Linked DNA regions of Homo sapiens. The protein of the gene in region 1 interacts with the protein of each later gene in a pairwise test. Each region holds a gene or a part of one and is shown on either strand. Other genes may lie near its edges.

Region 1 (2,227 bases):
TGCCTGTATTCCCAGCTACTCAGGAAGTTGAGGCGGAAGAATCGCTTGAACCCAGGAGGCCGTGGTTGCATGAGCTGCCTCCGTGCCACTGCACTCCGGACTGGGCAACAGAGTGAGACTCCATCTCAAAAATAAATAAATAAATAAATTAAATTAAATTAAATTAAAATAAACATAAATTTAAAAAATCAATCTACACTGTCCTTCAGACTCATTAGATCTGGAGACAAAGACCGTATGCACCACAAAAATTTCTCCAAGTGGGGTCTGTGCGCCAGTGGCATAAGCATCACTAAAGAGCTTGTTAGGGGTGCAGAATCTCAGGCTCCACTCAGACCTACTGAATCAGAGTCTGCATTTTAACACCATCTCTGAGTGGTAAGCACATGAAAATCTGAGAAGTGCTGCTACTAGGGTTTGCTTACATTTGTTCATCTTCAGAGGTTCCTAAAGCCTGGCCTCTTGTCTGAGATTTCCAGCTGAAAGCATTTCCTTGCTCCTCTTCTCATCTCTAATGAATATTTACCTTTACTACTAACACTCCAAGTTTTGCAATTTTTAAACTCTTATTATCTTTTGTTTTTCTTTCAGTATGAATGACCCATATTAAATCGCCCTTGGTGAAAGAAAATTCTTGGAATACTAAAAATCATGAGATCCTTTAAATCCTTCCATGAAACGTTTTGTGTGGTGGCACCTCCTACGTCAAACATGAAGTGTGTTTCCTTCAGTGCATCTGGGAAGATTTCTACCTGACCAACAGTTCCTTCAGCTTCCATTTCGCCCCTCATTTATCCCTCAACCCCCAGCCCACAGGTGTTTATACAGCTCAGCTTTTTGTCTTTTCTGAGGAGAAACAAATAAGACCATAAAGGGAAAGGATTCATGTGGAATATAAAGATGGCTGACTTTGCTCTTTCTTGACTCTTGTTTTCAGTTTCAATTCAGTGCTGTACTTGATGACAGACACTTCTAAATGAAGTGCAAATTTGATACATATGTGAATATGGACTCAGTTTTCTTGCAGATCAAATTTCACGTCGTCTTCTGTATACTGTGGAGGTACACTCTTATAGAAAGTTCAAAAAGTCTACGCTCTCCTTTCTTTCTAACTCCAGTGAAGTAATGGGGTCCTGCTCAAGTTGAAAGAGTCCTATTTGCACTGTAGCCTCGCCGTCTGTGAATTGGACCATCCTATTTAACTGGCTTCAGCCTCCCCACCTTCTTCAGCCACCTCTCTTTTTCAGTTGGCTGACTTCCACACCTAGCATCTCATGAGTGCCAAGCAAAAGGAGAGAAGAGAGAAATAGCCTGCGCTGTTTTTTAGTTTGGGGGTTTTGCTGTTTCCTTTTATGAGACCCATTCCTATTTCTTATAGTCAATGTTTCTTTTATCACGATATTATTAGTAAGAAAACATCACTGAAATGCTAGCTGCAAGTGACATCTCTTTGATGTCATATGGAAGAGTTAAAACAGGTGGAGAAATTCCTTGATTCACAATGAAATGCTCTCCTTTCCCCTGCCCCCAGACCTTTTATCCACTTACCTAGATTCTACATATTCTTTAAATTTCATCTCAGGCCTCCCTCAACCCCACCACTTCTTTTATAACTAGTCCTTTACTAATCCAACCCATGATGAGCTCCTCTTCCTGGCTTCTTACTGAAAGGTTACCCTGTAACATGCAATTTTGCATTTGAATAAAGCCTGCTTTTTAAGTGTTAACTAGTTTGCCTAGTTTGTTATTTTGAAATTATCATATGTTTTGTTTTCTCCCCAGTGAGATTACATGCTCCTTCAGGGCAGAGTTTGTGTCAGATCCCTGGAGTATCTAGTGCATTACTTGACACTCAATAAATGAATGTTCAAATAAATCAGAAAGAGCATACAGTGCACTGCTGATATAAGTTTCAGCAAACCCTCTTTCTCTATGGCATCTGATGACCTGGGCAGATATCACCTAATGTCAACAGCTGAATTCTTATGAGAGAATAGAGCCCTTTCAGAAGCTAGCTGGAAATACCTCCTTGTCCCATGGCCAATATAGATTTCATACAAATTTGCACACATTATGAGAATAATTTTTTGGTAATGATTACACTTTTCTTTCTCAAAGACATCTCAGATTCTGTATTATAGCAAAAGCTGTTGCAAAAGATTCTCCCTATAGTACACTGTAAATCTTGGATGTGCAAATCACATTCATGTGGTTTAGGGTACATCCC
Region 2 (3,183 bases), about 140 Mb from region 1:
ACTAAAGGAAACTACCCCTCCCACGCCTGCCCATTGGTGCAGGGCTGGCTCCTGATCCTCAGGTGTCATCCCCTCAAAGAAGACCTCTTTGGCCTGCAGGTCTGAGGCTGCCTTCACCTCCCAAGGTCTCTGCCCTATCACTCTGTTGTATTTCCTCTCCACTCTTAACACTGAAATTATTTATGAATGTACTTATTGTCAGTTTCTCCCTCTAAAATGGACACTCCATGAGGGCAGGACAGTCTCCTTTGATTACCACAGTATCCTTGGTGCCTAAAACAGCACCTACTCCATAGTAGGTGCTCAATAAATATATTTTTTGGTTTTTTTTGAGACGGAATCTTGCTCTGTCACCCAGGCTGGAGTGCAGTGGCGTGATCTTGGCTCACTGCAACCTCTGCCTCCCTGGTTCAAGCAATTATCCTGCCTCAGCCTCCTGAGTAGCTGGGACTACAGGCGCATGCCACCACGCCCGGCTAATTTTTGTATTTTTGGTAGAGACAGGGTTTCACTGTGTTAGCCAGGCTGGTCTTGAACTCCTGACCTCAGGTAATCTGCCTGCCTCGGCCTCCCACAGTGCTGGGATTACAGGTGTGAGCCACCGCACCTGGCCAATAAATATATTTTTGAATGGAAAGAAGGAAAGAACAGATCCTGAGAATCCTTGGACCCACCCAGGGCACGATCATCATCTTCATCATTATCGCTTTCATCTGGGTTAGCATATTCTTGGAGAAAAAGCTCTGACCTGCAGCCAAATACTGCTAAGCCCAGGCCAGCATCCTACTCCATTCCAGACTGACCCTGACCACGCAGAGGCCTATGACCCTGGCCCAAGACCCCAGGCCTAGAGCATAAGAAAGCCAAGGTGCAGGGCCAGGTGTGGTGGCTCACATCTGTAACTCCAGCACTTTGAGAGGCCGAAGTGAGATGATTGCTTGAGCCCAAAAGTTCGAGACCAGCCAGGGCAACATAGTGAGACCCCCCCCCCATCTCTACAAACATTTAAAAGTTAGCCAGACATGGTGGCATGCGCCTGTGGTCCCAGCTACTTGGGAGGCTGAGGCAGGAGGATTACTTGAGCCTAGGAGGTCAAGGCTGCGGTGAGCCTTGGTGGCACCACTGCACTCTAGCTTGGATGACAGAGCAAGACCCTGTTTCAAAAAAAAGAAAAAAGAAAAAAAAAAGGTAATTCAGGGCAGACCAGATCATTCTCCACCACTGACCGTTCTCCAACCCCACAAAGCACAGCCATGTCCCCACAGGGTGTGGCATTGTTTGGTCCCTGAGATGTAGGAAAGGCCTGCGCTGCAGTGGATTCAGTAGCTTTGTCCAAGGCTGACTGTCCTTCTCTGAGCCTCAGTCTGCCCCTCTGTGCAATGAGAAGCATAATCCTCACCCCCTCTCTCTTCCTGAGAGAAGGCAGCCAGAGCCTGGGGAAGTGTATAGGGGAGGGCTGGAGAGCTCCAGATGCTACAGATGTCCCCCAGAAGCCACCTGACTAGGCAGAGGAGGCACCCTTAGGGGTAGGGGGAAGGGAAGACTCGGGCTGGGGGACGGTTCCAGGAACTGCCACACCTGAAAGCCCAGGCTCTATGTCAAGATCAGCCCAGGGGCCCCAGGAGGTTTTCCAGCCTATGCCGGGGCTCCGGATCCTGGCTCCCCGCCCATGTGCTAGGATGCCCCAGACACACACATACCCTATTTGAGCTGATTAGCGCTTGAGAGCCAAGAGCAAAAAGGGAGCCACAAAGCCCAGGTTACCTTCCATCAACACCAGGATCACATCTCTCAGGATGGTCAAGGTTGTCCCCAGGACCAGGATGGAGAAGACGAAGGTGCAGATGGGGTCTACATACTTGTATTCTGGCTGCAGGAAGACAGGAAGGCAGACCTGGAGTTCACCATCTAACACCTCAGCTTCCCTTCTCCCCTCCCACCCAGCACTGCTGGGGAGAGGTGCTCTCTCTGCTGGGTGGGCATGAGCCTCGCCCTGGCCCTGCCTCCCAGTTTTCTGCTCTTTATTTCACATCTGCAAGAGCAGAAAGGACAGACCACAGTTCAGAATAAGGCAGTCCCTTCCCACCCCTCCTTCTCAAGGAGCTGAGACATGGACAGAGCAAAAAGGCATCTTAGATACCATCTGATCCGCCATCCGTCCCCATTTGACAGATGGGGAAATTGAGGCTCCATTAGAGCAAGCAAACTCATCCAATGTCACATGGCTAGCAAGGAGGAGAGCCAAGCTTCAGAGCAAATGCCTGCCTCTTTCCACTACAGCTCCCTGCCTCTATGTGATGGGCATTGCCCAGGGTTTGACAACACACAGTCGTAGGCTTGAATCTGGCTCTATGCTTTACCGGCTGTGTGACACTGTGCAAGTCACTGAACCTTTCTGAGCTACAGAAAACACTACCACCTACCCTTCAGGTTGTTGTGAGGATCAGAAGTGCTGACACTTGGTAGGTATTGGATAAATGTTCCTTTCCTCTCCCCACCCTTTTCCCTAGAACTGGGAGGGAGCTAGAATCTGAAAAGAAACCCCGGTAGAGAGTATACTCAGGTGGTCTACACTCCCCTGCCACCCCCACCACCCTGTGTCCCAGCTCTGACCTTGAAGTATAAAATATAGGCTGCCACTAGGACACCCATGCTCTGCATAAAGTCGCCGATCACATGGATGAAGGCAGCTCGGACGCTGGGGTTCTCCTCCTGCTGGTTGGTGGTGCCGTGGCTGTGCCCATGGCCAGACTGGTGAAGGGTCAACCCCATTCTATGGAAGTGGAGACAAAGCCAAGGGCTCACTGAGGTCGCAGATGGAGGTCACCTATTAGGACTAGCCAACTTGTAGGGCAAAAATCTCAAGCCCCTAAACCTTGTGATCTCTTTGGCCATGTGAGAAGTCCAACCCACGTGGCCTTGGTTCAGACAGCCATGAGAGATAGGGCCCAGCGCCAATGCCAGGCTGAGCCTGGGCACAACAATGCCACAGTGTCAAATCTCAGAGCAGGAGGGCATTAGGGAGGTCACTGTCAGTTCACTCCATCATGTCACAGATGGGGAAACTGAGGCCTCTGAACAAAGACCCCGAAAGAGACACCCATTGTCTCTAACTGAGACCAATTTCAGACTTGGGTTCTGCCCCTAGGGACAGCTACTCCTGCAACAACTGGCCTCTTCCCG

Evidence for each region.
Region 2: the proteins of SELL (region 1) and SLC30A2 interact in binary tests that used the Homo sapiens proteins (3 or more experiments, as listed by UniProt).

What each region holds. Positions count from the first base shown.
Region 1 is NC_000001.11:169,690,167-169,692,393, reverse strand, and holds the end of SELL (L-selectin precursor), read left to right. Parts: intron 1-591; coding exon 592-610; 3' UTR 611-1,727; downstream 1,728-2,227. UniProt on the Homo sapiens protein: Calcium-dependent lectin that mediates cell adhesion by binding to glycoproteins on neighboring cells. Mediates the adherence of lymphocytes to endothelial cells of high endothelial venules in peripheral lymph nodes.
Region 2 is NC_000001.11:26,039,936-26,043,118, forward strand, and holds part of SLC30A2 (proton-coupled zinc antiporter SLC30A2), read right to left. Parts: intron 2,774-3,183; coding exon 2,614-2,773; intron 1,871-2,613; coding exon 1,765-1,870; intron 1-1,764.